Homo sapiens: one gene and its partners. The protein of the gene in region 2 purifies or fractionates together with the protein of the main gene of each other region. This does not show direct contact. Each region holds a gene or a part of one and is shown on either strand. Other genes may lie near its edges.

What was found. Proteins that work in one complex are often made in the same cells at the same time.
Region 1: the proteins of PARVA (region 2) and DDX47 purify together in Homo sapiens (affinity purification with mass spectrometry; 2 studies listed by BioGRID and IntAct, with this or other methods). This does not show direct contact.
Region 3: the proteins of PARVA (region 2) and IQGAP1 purify together in Homo sapiens (affinity purification with mass spectrometry; 3 studies listed by BioGRID and IntAct, with this or other methods). This does not show direct contact.

Annotation. Positions count from the first base shown.
Region 1 is NC_000012.12:12,823,329-12,830,354, forward strand, and holds the end of DDX47 (probable ATP-dependent RNA helicase DDX47), read left to right. Parts: intron 1-541; coding exon 542-688; intron 689-1,211; coding exon 1,212-1,349; intron 1,350-2,671; coding exon 2,672-2,742; intron 2,743-3,917; coding exon 3,918-4,047; intron 4,048-6,094; coding exon 6,095-6,226; 3' UTR 6,227-6,653; downstream 6,654-7,026. UniProt on the Homo sapiens protein: Required for efficient ribosome biogenesis. May have a role in mRNA splicing. Involved in apoptosis.
Region 2 is NC_000011.10:12,513,567-12,520,592, reverse strand, and holds part of PARVA (alpha-parvin), read right to left. Parts: intron 6,597-7,026; coding exon 6,528-6,596; intron 2,984-6,527; coding exon 2,882-2,983; intron 2,149-2,881; coding exon 2,076-2,148; intron 1-2,075. UniProt on the Homo sapiens protein: Plays a role in sarcomere organization and in smooth muscle cell contraction. Required for normal development of the embryonic cardiovascular system, and for normal septation of the heart outflow tract.
Region 3 is NC_000015.10:90,391,225-90,398,250, forward strand, and holds part of IQGAP1 (ras GTPase-activating-like protein IQGAP1), read left to right. Parts: intron 1-7,026. UniProt on the Homo sapiens protein: Plays a crucial role in regulating the dynamics and assembly of the actin cytoskeleton.

The DNA.
Region 1 (7,026 bases), on a different chromosome or scaffold from region 2:
TTACTTTGATCATTCCTGCCTCTCCCTCTTCTTTTCACCAAAGCATCTGAAAATGTGTCAACTCTTGATTAGGTAAGAGCTGTAATGCAGATTGGCATCCTGTCTGTTTGCTTTAGAGTGCATATCGTGCTTATATTATCACCGATAAGCCAGACATGCCAGGAATTCACAACACATTAAATCACAATACTGAGGTCATGATGTAATCATATAATTCCTTCCCATCCCCATCCTTGAGGTAATTTTTCCTTTGTCTGCTTATTATGTGGCTTTTATTTAGGATGAAGCCCCTGGTTTTGTGCTTTGATATAAGGACTTCTCCTGTTTGCTGAGTACAGATCTCCTGCCTGCCTTAAGGCTAAGTGGGGAATATGTGGTTCACAGAGATGATAATGCTGGTTAAGGAATGCAAAGCTGGCAGCTGGAGGTCTGGATAATTGAAAAGCGACTATAGGCTTAGTCTTTACCTTATGTATATGCCAGGTCTCCAATCCTGTCTCCCAGGTTCAATGACATATATTGTTTTGGGTTTGTAACTTAGGATACCTACCTGGTTTATATTCTAAATGAATTGGCTGGAAACTCCTTTATGATATTCTGCAGCACCTGTAATAATACCCAGAGAACAGCTTTGCTACTGCGAAATCTTGGCTTCACTGCCATCCCCCTCCATGGACAAATGAGTCAGGTAAGGATTCATCATCATCATCAGCCATGCACTGGTGGCGTGAGCGAGATAAACCTCCTAACAGTAGGTTTGTACAATAAGGCCATAGGGCACCGATGCCTGTTTCCATAATTGTTGTAATTTTATGGGCTTTGAAGTGTTGCTCTAGATACTTACTTTCTCCTTTCAGGGTAGCGAGAGGCTCCCATTAGAATATTTCATATGTACCTGTCTGGTTTGCAAGCTGTTGAGTTGATTTATTCAGCCCTAGTGGTAATAATGACTCTGGCCTCTAAAAACATTAATAAATTATTTCCCAGTTACCTTTCTATCGTGTCAAACTACCCTTATTTTGTATCATATATATTTTTTTAATTTTTTGTTGCTTCCATATTTCTGTTTTGACCTGTGAAGCCCCATTCAAAACTTAGGGGGAAAAACCTTTAAAAAATTTATGTCTGTTTGTTCTCGTGTTTGTCTATTTTGTGTTTTGTATTCCAAAACATAGGTTAAGTTTTCCAACATTTCTTTTTCATTACCTCAGAGTAAGCGCCTAGGATCCCTTAATAAGTTTAAGGCCAAGGCCCGTTCCATTCTTCTAGCAACTGACGTTGCCAGCCGAGGTTTGGACATACCTCATGTAGATGTGGTTGTCAACTTTGACATTCCTACCCATTCCAAGGTGAGTCCTATTGCTAACTTACCTTTCTAGTCCTAAAGTGTATTTCTTAATGGACTGTCTTCTGTCTTTCCTTAGTTACAGCAGTTATTTTGTTCCTGGTTAATTAAGTATCAAAAAACAAGAAAGCCCTTGGTTAGTTCATTCACATCATCTTGCACAGGCCTGTGTATGTAACATTAGTACATATGAAAGAGGTAGCCAAGGAGAGTTATTAGATGCTCATAGAAGGGGCTGGTGCGCCACATACTGATCTTGTCACTGTCATTTCTTGAGAATGACAGCTTGTAGTTTTTTTGAGGCGGAGTCTCGCTCTGAGTTTTCTGAGGTGGAGTCTGCACCCAGTCTGGAGTGCAGTGGCGCAATCTTGGCTCACTGCATGCTCTGCCTCCTGGGTTCACGCCATTCTCCTGCCTCAGCCTCCCGAGTAGCTGGGACTACAGGCGCCCACCACCACGCCCGGCTAGTATTTTTAGTAGAGATGGGGTTTCACCGTGTTAGTCAGGACGGTCTTGATCTCCTGACCTCGTGATCTGCCCACCTCGGCCTCCCAAAGTGCTGGGATTACAGGCGTGAGCCACCGTGCCCGGCCTACAGCTTGTAGTGCTTAGTGTATCTCAAGGTTTCTCAGCCTTGGCACTATTAACATTTTAAGCTTTCGAATTCCTTGTTGTGGGGGTTGTTCTTTGAGTTGAAGGATTCCTAGTAGCATTCCTGGCCTTTACCCAGTAGATAACAGCATCACACAGTCTTCCACCTGTGATAATCAGAAATATTTCCAGACATTACCAGTGTCCCTTGAGGATGGCAGAATCACCCCTGGATGAGAACTGTTGTGTCTCTTGTCTTTGTATTTAACTGCTGTAGACAAGATGCTGTCTCATTTGATTTTCATAACAACTCTGTAATATGGGCATGTATTTCTATTCCTGTTCACTAGATAGAAACCAAGGTTCAGAGAGGTTATGTGATTTGCAGGTAATTGTGTAACTGGCAGATGGGAAGGATCAGAGCTGTAATCCAGCTCTGCCTCGAGATCCAGTGCTGTTTTTTAAAATACCATGCAGCCTGCGACCATGTAGATATGCTTTGTAGATTTATCTGTCTGTGAAAGAAGGGAAAGCATTGGATCAATTTTGTGCTGCAAGGAGAACAAAAAAGATGAAGTAGATTTGTCTCAACAAATTGCCCCGGCCATTTATTTTCTCCATGTTACGAAATGAATCTATTTTCTTTCAAAGGTTTTGCAGCAGGACTTTGCATATGTAGTTTTTTTTAAACTTATAATCCATATAACTTGAATTTATTTACCCTTTTTGTTTTAGGATTACATCCATCGAGTAGGTCGAACAGCTAGAGCTGGGCGCTCCGGAAAGGCTATTACTTTTGTCACACAGTAAGTAAATCAGCTTTAGGGCCGAGCAATGTAGAGAAAAGAGCAGAACTTTCAAGCCACTGGCTGAGAACCTGACACTACCATTTACTACACTAATCACTTTCATACTGAAAACCAGGATGAAGGAGTTGAAAGATGGGAATAATAATACCTATCTAGCAGGGTTTTGGTGAAAATTGGAGATTATATATGTAAAAGATCTAGTATAGTATTTGGCATGTAGAATGGTACCTAGAGCTGGAGAGCAATTGCCTTTGTGTCAACTCAGAAAGTATTAGAATAACTATTTCCAATTGTTTTTTTTAAAGAAACAAATTTTTATGTACCCAAGGCTGTTCTGTGAATAAATACCTTGAGGGATTTTCTCCCTCCCTCCTTTCCTTTTTTTTTTTGTATTTGTCTCGCTCTGTCGCCTAGGCTGGAGTGCAGTGGTGCAGTCTTGGCTAAGTGCACCTTCCACCCCCTGGGCTCAAGCAATCCTCCTACCTCACCATAGCTTCCCAAGTAGCTGGGACCACAGGTGCATGCCAGCACACCTGGCTTTTTAAAAAATATTTTTAGTAGAGATAGGGTTTTGTCATGTTGGCCAGGCTGGTCTTGAACTCCTGAGCTCAAGCGATCCACCTGCCTTAGCCTCTCATAGTGCTGGGATTACAGGCACAAGCCACCTGCCTGGCCGATTTTTGTTTCTTTTTCTTTTTTTAAGCAGCAAGGTTTCACTCTGTTGACCAGGCTGGAGTGCAGTGACTTGATCATAGCTCACTGCAGCTTCAAACTCCTGGGCTCAAGTAGTCCTCATACCTCAGTCTCCTGAATGGCTGGGATTACAGGCACATGCCACCACGGTTGGCTAATTTTTAATTTTTTATAGAGATGGCATCTCACTGTGTTGTCCAGGCTGGTCTGGAACTCCTGGTCTCAAGTGATTCTCCTGCTTTGACCTCCCAAAGCGTTGGGATTACAGGTGCAAGCCACCATGCCTGGCCTCCCTTGAGTGATTTTCTAATGGGCTATGCACAGAGATTGCACTTAACCCATATTTAGAAAAGAAATAATATGTTCAATATTGTTTAAACCTATGGTTCCTATTGCGTTGTATCATATAATAATAGTTTGGGAATGGACAGGCATTTGCGTTACCAGGCAACCAGAGCTGTGCAGTTTTCCTTCCTCAGGTATGATGTGGAACTCTTCCAGCGCATAGAACACTTAATTGGGAAGAAACTACCAGGTTTTCCAACACAGGATGATGAGGTTATGATGCTGACAGAACGCGTCGCTGAAGCCCAAAGGTTTGCCCGAATGGTATGCATCTTTCTTTTCTCACCAGTGTCTGTGCAAACAATGTTAACTGTGTGCCACTTTATTATATTAACCCTCATACTAAACTGCAGAAGCTGGGTATTATTTTATTCCAAATTTAAGACGAGCAAACTAAGGTGCAGAGATGGTAGGTAATTTGCATTAGACCATACAACCAAATGGTTGAATCAAGGTTTGGCCTCATTCTGACATTCACACATTCACAGCACCTGTTCATGTGTCGCACGTGGTGAGATAGTTCATCAGACTTGAGGTCAGAAGATCCAGCTGTGAACTGTGTGAGCTTGGGAAATTTGCCTGATTTCTCAGAATCAGAATCAGTTTCTCACCTGTAAATTGGGAATAACACTTGCCTGAATACCTTATGGGGTTTTATGAGCACCAGAGAAGCCAATATAAACTACATAGTTACTAGTAGGGGTTGATCATACCTAATCCAAAAATTTGAAATCCAAAACCAAGATCCAAAACTTTTCTTTTTTCTTTTTTTTTTTTTTTTTGAGATGGAGTTTTGCTCTTGTTGCCCAGGCTGGAGCGAATGGTGCAATCTCGGCTCACCACAACCTCCGCCTCCCGGGTTCAAGCGATTCTCCTGCCTCAGCCTCCCGATTACAGGCATGTGCCACCATGCCCAGCTAATTTTGTATTTTTAGTAGAGATGGGGTTTCTCCATTTTGGTCAGGCGAACTTCTGACCTCAGGTAATCCCCCCGCCTCGGCCTCCCAAAGTGCTGGGATTACAGGCTTGAGCCATTGTGCCCAGCAATCCAAAATTTTTTGAGTGCGAAAAGGATTGCCGCAAGTGGAAAATTCCATGCCTGACCTCGTGTGACAGGTTGCTATCAAGACACAGTCAAAATGTTTTTAATGCACAAAAATATTAAAAATATGATGTAAAATTACCTTCAGACAATTAAAAATATTGTGTAAAATTACCTTCATATATAAGGTATATATGAAACAAGTGAATTTTGTGTTTAGAGTTGAGCCCCATCCCCAAGATAGCTCATATGTATCTGCAAATATTCTAGAATTAGAAAAAATCTGAAGTCCGAAACACTGCTGGTCCCAAGCATTTCAGATAAGGGATACTCACCCTGTAAGTAGTAGTAACAGTAATAGTGGTGATGAGAAGATTCTAGAGGAAAACCATTGGAAGTGCTGCCTGCTTTCTGGAGTTCTGGTCTGAGGGATGGAGAAACTTTGCCCATAGTTTGTTTTTGGAGTAGCTGAGGTGCACATTTGGTTTTTATTCTGTCCACATGGGATTTTTTTGTTTGTAAAAGTATTACATGTGCATTGGGAAAAAAATTCAAAAAATACAGAAAGGATTAAAGTAGTAAGTGAAAAGGTAAACCATTCCCCACAGAAAACCATTGATAACATTTGGCTATTTTTCTTTCTTTAGCCATAATTAGACTTTATCTAATTATATAGGATTAACATTTTTCTGTTTCAACAAATACAGATTCATGTGATCGTTTCTTAATGGCTACAAAGAATTCCATCATGTGTATGAAATACTTACATTCATGGATGCTTACGCTTTTTTCCAGTTTCTTTCTACTTTGGTACAGTGTTAAACACCCTACTTTGTACAGCTTTGCATATTTACTTCCTTAGAATAAATTCCTAGAAGTACACTTGTTGGGCCAAGGGACATACACAGTTAAAATTTGAATTCATACAGAATGCCAAATTGTCCCCCGCCCCAAGAAAAGCTATAGCAGATTGCACTATAAATGAGAGTATATGTGAATTTTTCTACACCTTGGCCAATACTGGGGATTACCCTTCTCTTAAGTCTTTGCCAATCTGCCATGTGAAAATAAAACCTTACTTTAGTGTTCACGTTTTGATTACTAATAAGGTTAACATCTTTGTATATTTGGAGTTGGGTCTTGTTCCTTTGCTAATGTCAGGCATCAGCAAGTTACTTGATACTTGATCTTAAGGAGAGGGGACTAGAATGAGTAACCTTCAGTGCCAGTAATTCATTTTCAATCCCATCCTCTCTTTTTTTCTTGCAGGAGTTAAGGGAGCATGGAGAAAAGAAGAAACGCTCGCGAGAGGATGCTGGAGATAATGATGACACAGAGGGTGCTATTGGTGTCAGGAACAAGGTGGCTGGAGGAAAAATGAAGAAGCGGAAAGGCCGTTAATCACTTTTATGAAGGCTCGAGTTCTGCTGTTCTGTAAAAGAGAATTGGAGAATGAAACCTGCTCCAACAGAGATCATGAGACTGAAATTGGTCAGAATTGTGTCCAGAATGTGCTCAGCTAATTCAGTATTCTTCCCCATTCTGGGTTGGAGTTTACTGCAGAGTAATTCTTACAGTGCTGATGTCAAGACTGTTACTGTTCTTCGACTTTGATTCCTTGCTCATGACATGAGTAGGGTGTGCTCTTCTGTCACTTCACACAGACCTTTTGCCTTTTTTAGCTGCAAGTCAAGGACTAGGTTGATGATGCCCATGACCTGTAATTGTAAAGAAGCTTGGACATCTGCAAATGATATTTAAACCATCTTGGCTTGTGCTTTATTCAAACTAATGTGAAACAATAAATTTAAATATTATTTTTAAAAGATTCTAACTCCTTAAAGACCTTGGTGTTAAAGGGCCTTATAGATTTAAGTAAGATCTTGTTAATAGGTAAGAACCTGACAGTGTTGATTACATGGCAAATTCATTGGTTGTCCTAATTAAGATAAATATTTATTACTTAAAAAAATCAACAAGGAAACGAGATGATGGATGGCTTTGAAAGGGAAGCCCCAGCCGGGTGTGGTGGCTCACGCCTGTAATCCCAGCACTTTGGGAGGCCAAGATGGGCAGATCAGGAGGTCAGGAGATTGAGACCATCCTTGGTAACACCGTGAAACCCTGTCTCTACTAAAAATACACACACAAAAAAAACATTAGCCTGGCGTGGTGGCGGGCGCCTGTAGTCCCAGCTACTC
Region 2 (7,026 bases):
ATGAAGCCTGGGCAGCAAGTCATCTCAGATACAAACCCAGTTTCTAGGGGATTTCAAGGCACAACAGAGCTTTGAGTGTTAAACAGCACAGCAGAGAATGCATTTTCCTGACCTTAAAAACATGTTGCCATGAAAAATGCCTCCACCACAACCAGTTTGATTTTGAAATGCCCTCAAAGAATTACCCACATTGGCACCCTTTGAAATGTCTGCATCATTTACTTCCAAATCTCACTTTCCAGGTAGAAGCATAAAAACCAGACGGAATGCTGGGATTCACTTCTTTCAAAGTACAATTTCATAAAATGCTATTTCCATTCCCCTTTACGTACTGGAAATTTGCAGCATGGGCATAATGCCCTGTGTCATAACAAATAAAACACGTGTTTTTCCATCCACATCAGTCTGTTAGTTTCACATTCAGCAACTTAATAATTGCATAAAAATATCACCTATATTCCAAAATATTCCCATAGATTGATTTATATTGGGAAAATTATCTGTCCCAAGGGAAAGAAATATCCCAATTCTAAAATAGCAGAAGTACTTCCAATCTGTAACCAGGAAGTTTCATATTAAGTGGTTGAAGAAAGTGGAAGCAAAATGATGGTCGGAACTTTCTCACTGTGTCTGTCCTCCCAGAAGCAGGGTGCTCATCATCTGCCCACAGAACAAGAAGAGTCCATTCCTAATGGCATTAGGAAGGCTGGAGTGGCCTTGCCAAAGAGAGAGCCCCAGGGGGACACCAGCCTTGCTAGAGGTCCTCCCCCAGGTCTCAGTTGACCAGGGGCTTAGGACAAGGTGGTAATAAATGAGAACAGGAGTTGACCTTTGTTGGCTAGAGTCAATAGATAACGAGTCTGGAAGGAGTCATGAGACAGGGTCCCCATTCTTCCCCGGGGGGACTTTTGCTCATGCTGTCATTCTGTCTGGCATGCACACACTTCTCTCCCAGTCTCCATACACCAAAGCCCTACCTGGTCCTTATGGTTGAGCCCCACTGTCTCCATCAAACTGTTCCTCCCCCAAGACAGAAGTGGTATCACCTCCTCAGTCCTCACAGACTCTTCCTTGTACCTCTTTCGTAACAGTTCCCATGACTGTCATTTCATTTTGCTAACTGGCTCCAACTTTTCTCTTCCCTGGTTGGCTACACGTGCCTTGAGGTTCAGGAAGGTCTTACCCCTCTTGTTATATCATGGTCTACAGGGTCTCAAGCCCACTAGACCAGGGCATGGCCCCCACTAGGTGGGGGTTTGGATAGAGGAGCTCAGAGCAGAGGCAGGAAGGGGGCATGAGAGCCCACCATTCCTACTCATCCACTTGCCTATAAACTACCAGAAAAGTGCGAGCAAAAGGGCCACAGATGGCATTCTCAGTGTTCCCAGGGGACATATGCAGGAGATTATCTGCAACACAGTGGTGACCTGCCAGCTCTGGTGAAATGGAATACTTCAGTCAGTAAGGGGCAGAAAGCAATCATCCGTACCAAGACTACTAAGAGAAGCGTGCCTCCTCTGCTCACGAATGCACGTGTGCACTCCTAGCAGGAGTATGCAGGGGCTGCAGAAGCACTTGTCCCTTCTGCATTTCCCCTCAGACTTATATTTACAACCCAAACCCCACAAATCATGGCCTGTCCTCAGACAGAGTCTGAGCAGGCAGAGCTCCGCATCTGTAAGGAGAGAAGCAGTTTTGCTCAGCCCAGAACTGTCTGCGCTGCACCTTCACCCCGACTGGCGGGGACACAGCTCTTTGGCAGGTCAGCACCCTGTGCAGGGACAGGAAAACCTGGAAATTGGGCACAGGGCAGTTCCTGCAGCAGCAGTTCTGCTCGGTCCCTGATCCCCGCGATCCCACGCATGGCATGTGTGGGATTTCAGATTCTTTTCTTCCCCTGGCTGTGCAGCTGGCAGCTCACAAAGGGTCTCTGGGACTGAGCAGCTGCACCGAGTCCCACCTTCCCCAGCAACGAAGGCTTCAGAAAATGCTTCCCTCTGCTACAAAATCTGAGTACTCATGTGCAGGGAGAGGGTCTCACTCTGTTGTCACAAACCCAGGAAAGAGCAAAGTACCTTCTGGCCGCGGTTTTGGCTTTTCCAACCCTCCATCTTGCATGAGCTCAAAGGCAAAGGAGACATTCAAGACCTGGCAAGAGAGATGCAGACAGCATGTACCATTGCACACCCAGGAGCCCCAGGACCTGGCCCTGGGAAGTGAAGGAGCCCAGCACTGTAGCCAGAGGGACAGAGGCTGAACTAATTTCAAGGAGAAATATGGCTACCAAAATGGGCAGGCCACCTGGAGCGTGAGCTAGCTGATCCTAGCTTGCTGTTGGGAGAAGCACTCCTGGAGAAGCACAAAACTCCCTTCATATCCTACTGTGTTCCTGTGTAAACTGCCAGGACTTCAAATTGGGGGTGTCAGTGCACACGTCTGGAAGAATCAGATGGCAGGACATGTTCAACAGGCAGAGCAGGCTTTCTGGTCAAATGCCTTTGTGTAGCGAGCAGGATGTGGCAGCCTACGAGAGGCCATCAGAACCAGGCTAAGCATGAGCCTCAGGGCTGACCAGCTTCACAGTCACTTTCCTTGTCATCTCTGGGGAGAGAGGAGGCTGGGCTGGGGCACTTGACAGGGACACAGGGCAGGGGACCCGGGCCAGGCTTCAGGGCAAGGGAAAGGCAGTCAGGGATGCCCAGTGGTCTGCAGGTAGCTCCTTCCCAGCTCAGCTCTTATAATGGGTCCCACCTCCAGGCACTGAAGACGTTGAGCAGAGGGGAAGCTTCTGCCTTTTTTCTGGATAGCCCCAGCATGGGTGTGGGCACATGAGTCAGGGGATGTGGGCTAGGGGGCCTCCCTTGATGTCCCTTCTCCTTACCTTCTGTTCAAAGCTGTCCGGGGTCAGGAAGAAGCTGTGCAGGGGCACAAAGTAGCCCTCCAGGAGCCCCATGAGCAGCACCAGGTACACCCCATCTGCAAACTGGAGGAAGAGCCAGGTGATGGCACTGGCCCCTGAGCCTCCCAGCCAATCCCCATCCAGGGGGCCCATCAACTTCTGTGCTATGCCACCTGAAGCCTACCACCCCAGCCAGGCTGCTAGCTCGGGGGTAGGGGCAGTGGCCCGAGACAAGGAGGTCTGCTCTGCCCCACGTCTGGCTGGCACAGGAGCCACAAGCCCAGGCCCTGATCTCAGCTGACCCAGCATTTACTGAACAGAGGCTGTGTACCAACTCCTGGTCTAGGCATGGGGACCAGAGCATGGTGGGGGGTGGGGGGTGGGGGGTGGTCAGTGTGGCTCCTGCCCTGGAGGAGTACACAGTCTAATAGGGAAACTGGTGTGGGGGCAAGGCACAGCTGCTCTGATGGAAGGAAGCTCGCTGGCCTGAGTGAGGTTGAGAAAGGTCGCCCACAAGCACTGAAGGCATCAGAGGAGTCTTCTGGAGGGGACAGAGCCTGAGTGGAGAGCTGAGGATGAGCAGGATTGGCTAGAGTGGGACAGAGGGAGGAGGGGGAGGTGATGTCCAAGGTGAATGGCATGAGGTTCCTGGGGAGATCTGTGCTTTCTGAACAGAGAAAGGACTAGTGTCACACAGGGCTGGGCATTCTTTCTCCCATCTCTCTTCAGTATTACAGCAGCAGAGTGCAGCTGTTATGAATGTGGGCTCTGGGGCCAGGCCTCCCAGGTGCAAATTCCAGCTCTCTCACCTACTAGCTATATGCCTTGGGCAAGTTATGTCACTTCTCTGTACTCATATGTCTTATCTGTAAAACAGGGATGGTAATAGAATAGTATCTATGTCACAGAGTTATCGTGAGGACTAAGCCAGTTAAATATGCAGAGAGGGCCTGTAAACTGCTAGGCATGTAGCATTGAATAAATATTAAATGTTGCTATTACTGTCTGGGAAAACAACAAAGCAATCAGGACATGACTTACTTGCTCTTGCTGGCAAAAGCAGAACTATGTGCTGAGGGCCCTGGCAGGAGGCTTGCAGCCCGGTCCCTTCCTAGGCAGAAGAGGCCAGATGGGTTGGGAAACCAGGCCCAAGGGACAGGAGAGTCCCTCAGCTAAGTGCGGAGGCTGCTGGTCTTCTGCTTAGGGCTGGGTGAAGTGAGCATACACTGAGGGCTCAGGACAGGCTTGTGGAGGCCGGGGATGATGGACCTTGGGAGGAGTAGGGGGTTCCAGGTAGGGGGGATGGCCTAGCAAAGACATAGAGGTCAGATGCACATCCGACATTCTAGAACCCTTTCAAAGGAGGCTGGGCCACCAAATGTTTATGAGTGTATATAGCTGCTGGGGTTTAGAGAAGGCCACATTTCTTGGAATCACCTTAGGAGCCCAGAGTCTGCTCAGAGAGCTTTCCAGGTAGCCAGCTAGCCGGCCTGCGGCTCAGCCGTCATTAAGGGCACAAGACCCTGAGCTTGCGCTTGCCTTAAAGGCAGCTTCTGGCCGAGTGCGGTGGCTCATGCCTGTAATCGCAGCACTTTGGGAGGCTGAGGCAGGCGGATCGCTTGAGCTCAGGAGTTCCAGACTGGCCTGGGCAACATGGTGAAACCCTGTCTGTACTAAAAATACAAAAAAATTAACCGGGTATGTTGGTGCATGCCTGTAGTCCCAGCTGCTCAGGAGACTGGGGTGGGAGGATCACCTGAGCCTGGGAAGTTGAGGATGCAGTAAGCCGTGATCGTGCCACTGCACTCTAGCCTGCATGACAGGAGTAAGACCCTGTCTCAAAAACAAAAGGGTAGCTCCTCCCAGCTTCTATCCATCAGGCCTGCAACTCAGGTGGGAACGGCCTGAGCATGACTCACCCTAGGTGGACACGGGAGAGCAGACCCCAGAGTCTGTCAAAATCAAGGCCCTTCTGGTGGGAGCTGAGCAACTGGGCTTCATTCAAGCTGTGGTGAGAAGGAGTTAGGAGTAAAAGAATCCAATCTGTGAGCTCAGGGGTGACCTTGGGTTAGGGTTGGGGTCATTCACAGCTCTGAGTGCCAGGCTTAGACTGCTCCTCACCTCCCATGGCTGGTTCCACTGACTTGGTAGGAATAGTAGATAAAACTGTAGAGACCCAAAGTGCTTGGCAGTGACCCCTGTCATAGCACTCCCTGCCCTTGAAAACGGAGCTGATCATTCCAGGGCCCATTCTAGCTCACTCAAGGAAGCGTCACTTTTCCAGAACATTCCTTATTTCCTACAAGAGTACATGAAGCTCATTTCACACAGTCTAGACACACTCAGGTGGAGCTCAGCGACAGGCTGGCATTTGTCTTTAAAATAAAAGGAGGTACCCAGATGACTGAAAGAGAAGTATAAGGCAGAAGCTCACCAAGAATGAAAGGAGGTGGGGAAACAGGATTCATCAGGCTCAAAATATCTCCCCAATAAAGATTAGTTAAGTATAAAGAGAGGAAAAATAACTTTATAATAGGGAAATCCGGTGAACACCATCCTAACCAAATAATCCAAGTTATCACTAGCAGTGGGACTAATGGACAGAGTGCCTCCTCCTGGGATGCCCCGGGAAGAACACAGCCTTACTTGGGACGTGCTGTTAATGAAAATGCATGACCTGAATCTAATATGTGCAGAAAAGACAGTCTATAAACCAACTGGCCTGAACACTTCAAAAAGTGTCAGTGCCACAACAAGAAAGGCCGAGGAGTTGTTCTACGTTAAAAAGAGACTAAAGAGACATGACAAGTAAATGCAGCATGTGAGCAAACTGGACAACTGGCAAAATCTGAACAGAGTGTTTTTTCTAACCACATGATGTTGCCATTTTAGTAGGTTAAGAACAGTCAGCTGGGTGCGGTGGCTCATGCCTATAGTCCCAGCACTTTGGGAGGCCAAGGTGGGTGGATCACCTGAGGTCTGAGTTTGAGACCAGCCTGACCAACATGGTGAAACCCCGTCTCTACTAAATACAAAAAATTAGCCGGGCTTGGTGGCGCATGCCTGTAATCCCAGCTACCTGGCAGGCTGAGGCAGGAGAATCGCTTGAACCTGGGAGGCAGAGGTTGCAGTGAGCCGAGATCTTGCCACTGCACTCCAGCCTGGGCAACAAGAGTGAAACTCTATCTCAAAAAACAAAACAAAACAGAAAACAAAAACAGTCGAATGTCAGCAATTTCATATGATTCAATCTAAACAGATTAATGTATTATGTTAAAACTGCCTGCCTTTGATAATTGTGTTGTGGTTACCTAAGAGAATGTGCTTGTTCTTGAGAGACATATGCTCAAGCATTTAGGGGTGCAGAGAAAGAGAGAGAGGTGTGGCCAAATATTAACAATCGGTGCATCCCAGTGAAGGGTATATGAGTATTCATTCTTGTAATTTTCATAATAAAAAGTTGGAAAAAATCCACAGAGACTCAGTCCACCCCTCAGAGTAGGACAGATTCCCATGCCCTCATCCCCCTCAGCTGGGAAAGCCCTCCTGGCCAAGTGTGGTGGGCCACTTGGAACAGGGGCTGTAGGGCAGGGCCCTGCCTCTACCTGTGCTGGGGTCTGTCACCCACCTGGGTTTCCAGTTCTGTGACCTCCAGGTTCAGTTTATTCAGGTGCTTGTTCACGAAAGTGATGAGTGTCTAAAAGAGAAGCAAAGCAGGCCCTAAGCTGGGGACTCGCACTAGTGCAGGAGCCTGTGGCTGCTCCGTGACTCCCGTGAGGGCAAGGGTGAGGGTGAAAGCAGAGGATCAGGCCCAGCCAAGAGCCCTGGGCCCAGGAGCTCTCTCTGCAAAGGCCATTGAGTGCACAGGGAGGGCCACAGGCTCGACTTTGCAGTCCCATACAACTCAGGGCGTGTAAGGAACAAGGAGGTCCCAAGAGGCAGAATGATAGGTGGAGTGTCTGAGCCAGTGTCTGGGTGGGGGAACTGAAATAAAATGATTCCACTGGATCTCTCCTTCCTGTCCCTTCTTCGGCACAGGTGCCTAGGCCAGGGAGACAGGGAATTCTGTGAGGAGTGGGGAAGGCTGAGATTGCTGGGGTTAGCCTGGGTGGGAAGACAGGCTGTTC
Region 3 (7,026 bases), on a different chromosome or scaffold from region 2:
TCCTGTTTTTGGTGGGGGGAAAAAAAAGAAAAGATTTATTTGAGTATGTTATAGATGTAACTGGGAAGCTGGTGGTTGAGGGAATAAGTATAGGTAGGGTATTTATTTATGGCAATAAGTAGCCTTGATGAGAGTTTATCATGAATCACTGTGATGGGCATTTAAGTGTACTGAACGGTTTTCCAGGTTTCTATTGTTCAGTCTTATGCTTATTGTGCATGTTTTGGGCGTTACCAACTGTGGGGTGGAAATAGCATTTTTAGGATTTGAAGTTATTGGCTTTAATGTTTCACTTATGCTTCATGAATTTTGATTTATATATGAATTGAGTCTCCTCCTCCTATGACCTGCGGAGTGGCTGCTTGGTTTGGGAGGCTTAGAAGCGTGGTGCTGTTGGTGTAGGTCCATCTGTTTGGCAATATTCAGAGTCAGCATCCTCTGCATTCTTTGTGAAGTGAATGTAAAGCTGCTCTTTTCCTTTTTCAGATGCCCCACAACCTTGTGGTCTTAATTTTAGAGTGTCATTTTGTTATCAGTGATTCATTTCTTTTGTTCTGGTGCTTGTGTTCTTTTGCAGAGTCCCAGGGTAGATGTAATTATAGATCATGTATTCTATAAGTGAGCTTTGGTGGAAAAGTCAAGTGAGGGATAATGAAATATTTGTAATTAACGTTTAATAAAAAGGGTGTTTGAAGTGGTGCTAATAAACAAGTGTGTGTGTATGTGTGTATTTTAATTCTGAAAATCTTAAAATGCTACAAGAAAGTCCAGAGAACAGTACAACAAACATCATTGTATTCCAGAACTAACAAATGTTAACATTTGAGATATTTCCCTTTCCTCTAAAAACAAAACAAAACAAAACCAACATCGCTACATTTAAAGTCTTTTTTGTGCCCCTCTGGTCCCATTCTTCCTTCTCCTGGGGCAAACACTAACCTGTATTTTGCATGCCCTCTTGTGTCTAGGCTTCTTTTCTGAGCTTAAAACTTCCAGGAAACTGGAGCTTGGGTTTCAGTGATGACTTAAGTGAGGAGGATAACACTTGTCTTTCTAAATAATAGAAGATGACATAGCAAGGCATGCTATATCACTAGAAAAGGGGGCATTTTCTCATATGAAGTTTATAAGAAAACAAAAACTGTAAGATCTCTGCCATTTAAATTGTGGATTTCAAGGTTTGGAAGGTCAAAGAATTTGGAAGCTGCAGCTGTTCTGAGAGACCATCTTGTGCTCTGTGGAGCTTTGGTGATTCCACTGAGGTGACCTGGGGGTGAGAGGGAAGAGCTTCAACACACCTTCCTTCCCCCATCCAAAGTAGCTCTGCTTTTGTTTTACTGTTGAATTTCTTGAATAAAATTCACTTGTTACAGAGGGTGTTTTGGCTAACACCTCCCCTCCCCCAAACACTACCAATAACTAGTTCAACTGCTAATCTAGTTCAACCATCTCATTTAATGAAGAAACTGAAGCCTGAGTTTTTTGGTCTACTTGTAGTTTTCTTGATTGAAGAATGTTTCTATCTTTTTTTTTTTTTTTTTGTACAGTCTCGCTCTGTTGCCCAGGCTGGAGGGCAGTGGCGCAATCTTGGCTCATTGCAACCTCCACCTCCCGGGTTCAAGCGATTCTCCTGCCTCAGCCTCCTGAGTAGCTGGAATTACAGGCATCCGCCACTACGCCTGGCTAATTTTTGTATCTTTAGTAGAGACTGGGTTTCACCATAATGGCCAGGCTGGTCTCAAACTCCTGACCTCAGGTGATCCGCCCGTCTCAGCCTCCCAAAGTGCTGGAATTACAAACGTGAGCTGCTGTGCCTGGCCTCATCATTTTTTTAACTATGGTTGTTAACCAGGTGTGTGCATTAGAATCACCTGGGGAACTTAAAAAAAAAAAAAAATACACCTATCTGGGCCCTACCATAGAGATTGTGGTTCAGTAGGTCGGGGTGGGAGATCCAGACACATAGTAGTCCCTTGGTATCTGTGGGGGTTTGGTTCCAGGACACCTGCAGATATCAGAATCCACAGTTGCTCAACTTCCTTATATAAAATGGCATAGTATTTGCATATAACCTTAGCACATTGCATAATATATACTTGAAAACATCTCTAGATTACTTATCATACCTCTAGATTACTCTAGATATATCTCTAGATTACTTATCATACCTGATCCAATGTAAATGCTACATAAATAGTTGTTACACTGTATTGTTTTATTTATATCTTTCTTTATTTTTTTCTGACTGTTTTTGATCCATAGTTTGTTGAATCCATGGATGCAGAACCCATGGATAAGGAGGGCCGACTGTATTTTAAATGTCTCTAGTGATTCCGATGCTCCTTCCTTGGCCCCCACTCCTCCCCCTGTTGAGAAACAAGATTTAAAACTCTGCCTTATGCTGGGATATCATGACCTCAGTAGAATGTTACACTTCATCCTATTTCTTCATCAGGTTCTGCATTAGCCAGGCATTTTATTTTCAGCTACTCTAGAGCGTCTTTTTTTCTGTCAGGTGTTTTTTTCCAGTATAGGAAAGTAGCCCATTTCCTTTAAAGACCACCCAGCAGGCATGATCCCCTGAGGTGTTTTTTTGTTGAGTGCTTTTGCATACTTAAGGAGTAACTGACCTGGCCCGGTGGCTCACGCCTGTAATCCCAGCACTTTGGAAAGCTGAGGTGGGCGGATCACCTGGCGGTCGGGAGTTCGAGACCAGCCTGACCAACATGGAGAAACCCCCGTCTCTACTAAAAATACAAAATTAGTCGGGCGTGGTGGCGGGTGCCTGTAATCCCAGCTACTCGGGAGGCTGAGGCAGGAGAATTGCTTGAACCCGGGAGGCAGAGCTTGCGGTAAGCTGAGACAGTGCCATTGCACTCCAGCCTGGGCATCAAGAGTAAAACTCTGTCTCAAAAAAAAAAAAAAAAAAAAAAGGCAGTGGAGACATTTGTGATGATCTTCAGGTTTTTTTTTTTTTTTTTAAGGGAGGGCATAATAGTGGCATATTACCCTAGCACACCCTGCCCATTGGCCTGGCATCATGGAAAGGTGCCTGGTCTATTTTATGGAGGCAATCATAAAACTGGGTGTGGTGATTTTTGTTGTTGTTTAAGGCTTTGATTTTAAAAAATCAAGGTTGGAAGCACCTATTTAGATTGTAAACTAGAGAGGACAAAGGAAAGAAGCCTGGGAATGTTATGGTGAGAAAAGAGGACTAGAATCCCTGTCAGCCACCTATGTGGCTGCTGCCACCCCTAAAAAGTGTTGTGAGTGCACCAAGGACAAATGGCATGCTCTTCGTTATTAGTGAGCTATTAACCTCTTCCAGTTCTTTCTCCTACCTTGGTGAACCGGCCTGTATCTTGTGTGTTCCGAGGGCCCCTCTTTCCCCTCTAGCGCTAGACCCAGTTTGCCTTTTTGGTTTGGTTCCATCCTGTTTCCTCCATAACCTCCACCCCTCCCAAGTTGGAGGAGCCCCAATATCTGGGATTTACAGTAACTCTAAGGCCAGGAATAAAGATCATAGAGATTGGAGGGAGAAAAGCTTCCCCTCTTCAGTTCTATTTATAATACCTCTACTTCTACTAAAAGCTCCACCTTTTAGTACAGTGGCCCCATTGTGTATCCTAGGGCACTCCATTTTCTCCTCTGCCTGTAACAGAGCTCTTTCTTGGGAAAAGAGAGGAGTGTGTAGAGAGTGAATATGACTGTGTAGAGGCAGTGAGTATAAGTAAGAGAGTATAAGTGTAGAGAGACGAAAGTTTTCTGTGGCTGTGGGTTTGTGTTTCCCTGAAAGGTTAACTGGGAAAATTTAGGGGTAATTCCTATAAATGAGCACTGGGAGTGGTTGAGAAATAGAAAATGTAGAGATTTCTGCTTTTCTTCATTGTTTGGAGAGCAGCTTCAATATTGAAATTAAGCCGCTGTTCTAATGAGATATCACCTAACGATTCAAGGCTTTTTGCTAAGGGCTGCACAATAGATCAAGGATACATCTTAAATTATTATTTATGCTTAAATTGAAGCTTATTTTTATCCTTTTGCCTGTTCTTATTGAGTTTTACATTTGTTTAGGCTAAGGAGCGGGGTTTTTTTTGTTTTTTTGTTTTTTTTTGAAACGGAGTCTCGCTCTGTCGCCCGGGCCAGAGTGCAATGACGCTATCTCGGCTCACTGCAAGCTCCGCCTCCCAGGTTAACGCCATTCTCCTGGCTCAGCCTCCCGAGTAGCTGGGACTACAGGCGCCCACCACCACGCCTGGCTAATTTTTTGTATTTTTAGTAGAGACGGGGTTTCACCGTGTTAGCCAGGATAGTCTTGATCTCCTGACCTCGTGATCCGCCCGCCTTGGCCTCCCACAGTGCTGGGATTACAGGCGTGAGCCACTGCGCCCGGCCGGCTAAAGAGCAGTTGTATAGGAGCAATGAATACCGTTTCACTCAGTTGAAGGAGGTAACATTTAAATATGTGAGGTATGTTCAGTGCTTAGGTCTTGGACAGGAGGAAGTAACAGATCAGAATAAGGTTCAGGTGAAAAGAACCAAGAAGAGAACGTGTCAGGCAGGACAGAACAGGGAATTCTGCAAGTGAGAAGAAAGTACGATTAGTACTGGAAATGGAAGAAAATTCAGCTAGGTTAAAGGTCACAGGAAGAAAGTTAATTCCAGCATTCTCTGAGTTTCAGACAATTCCTGGTGTGCGCTTTCAAGTCTGTCATGGGCCACCTTTCTGCTGCTGAGTGCCCGTACCCTAGCTCAAGGAATAGGGCACACCCCTCTTGTAGAAGGGAAGGTAGGAACGCTGGCTGGTTGGAGACTGTCAGCAACTCCACGGTGATAAGTCGAGCTTAGCACTAAGTAGAAGTATGTCACTTTCTGTAATTTAGAGGAATTGAAAAGGTATCTTGGAAAGAAATTAGTTCTTGGGAACAAAGTCTTTTTTGTGCATATGTCTTTACTGTTGGCATAGAGCATTTTCTGGGATGGGCTCTTCAGATCTCCTCTCCCTGTAAGTGATTTCAGAATTCCATGAATGTTGGGATATGTCCAGGCTGGCACCCTGGGATCATGAAAATAGAAGTTAAGACATTTAAGAAGCAAGAAAACAAAATGGGTAGGTGAGGTGACTAGGAAGAATATCATGCCCAGCACTTCTAGAATTCTCAAAATGAGGAGCATCACTTAAATTTTGAGGGGGATCATTTTTAGGATGGTGACCCAAGCTCTCTTTGTACAGATGAGAAGTCTAGTTATCTCATGAGACCCAGTGTGACTAAAGGACCATAGCATGTAGCTGCGTAATGGCACGGTGGCACTAGGAGCTGATCCATTCATTTATTTATAATTACCAAGGGGAAGTATGGGGTGAGATTTATTCTTAACTCTTAAAATGGTGACATACACTATTTTAAGAATAAACCTCCATTCTTTTTTCGGATATTAATTTAGTGCAACGGCCTTGGACAGGCTCCACCATAAGAAGTGGGTTGCATTTAAAAGTGTATTTATTAAAAGTGGTTGAAGCTGAGTGCTTTTCTGTATTGTAACACTGTTGCAAATGGGGAGTATTCATTCCTAATGTGGCTGCCGAAAGCTTTTTACCCTACCATGTAGCTGAAAATTTAGCAAAAAAAATTTTTTTTTTTTTTGGAGACGGAGTCTCGCTCTGTTGCCCAGGCTGGAGTGCAGTGGTGCGATCTGGGCTCACCACAACCTCTGCCTCCCGGGTTCAAACGATTCTCCTTCCTCACCCTCCCGAGTAGCTGGGATTACAGGTGCCCACTGCCATGCCTGGCTAATTTTTGTATTTTTAGTAGAGATGGGGTTTGACCATGTTGGCCAGGCTGGTCTCCAACTCCTGACCTCAAGTGATCCACCCGCCTCGGCCCCCGCAAAGTGCTGGGATTATAGGCGTGAGCCACTGCACCCAGCCTAGCAAAATTTAAAATTAAGAAATGTAAAGAGTTGAACTAGTTAGTACCCATTATTATTAAGAAAAGTCATGTGGCTCTATATTCTCATAGTACGAATAATTAAGTAAAATAGAAATTCAAAAGTATGAATAAAATTTCTTTGAAAATCTTGAATGTTGAGATATCTTGCCACAGTGAAAAGAATCAGACTTTCTGTTTTGGCAGGTGTGAGTTCTGATTCTGGTTTTGCAAGTTGCTTAACGTCAGGGAGTGAGCCCAAATTTGTCCTTTGCAGAATGGGAACGCTATGCATCTTACAGAGCTGCTGTGATGGTTAATTGCTTGGCACAGTGAAATACAGTAGGCACTCAACAAACTTTTTTTTTTTTTTTTTTTTTTTTGAGACGGAGTCTTGCTCTGTCGCCCAGGCTGGAGTGCAGTGGTACAATCTTGGCTCACTGCAACCTCCGCCTCCCAGGTTCTCACCATTCTCCTGCCTCAGCCTCCCGAGTAGCTGGGACTACAGGCGCCTGCCACCACACCTGGCTAATTTTTTACATTTTTAGTAGAGATGGGGTTTCACTGTGTTAGCCAGGATGGTCTCGATCTCCTGACCTCGTGATCCACCTGCCTCGGCCTCCCAAAGTGCTGGGATTACAGGCGTGAGCCACCACGCCCGGCCTGAACTCAATAAACTTTTATCCAAGCACCTGGATAAAGGATATCCTGAATTTTTTCTTTTCTTTTTTTTTTTCTTTTTTTTTTTTGAGATGGAGTCTCACTCTTGTTGCCCAGGCTGGAGTGCAGTGGCACTATGTTGGCTCACTGTAACCTCTGCCTTCTGGGTTCAAGCGATTCTCCTGCCTCAGCCTCCCAAGTAGCTGGGATTACAGGTGCCTACCACCATACCCAGCTAATTTTTGTATTTTTTAGTGGAGACGGGGGTTTCACCATGTTGGCCAGGCTGGTCTCAAACTCCTGACCTCAGGTGATCCACCCGCCTTGGCCTCCTACAGTGCTGGGATTACAGACATGAGCCACTGTGCCCGGCCTCCTGAATTTTCACATTAAATCTGCAAAAGGAAAAGCAGATTTAATGTGAAGATGACAGGAATTT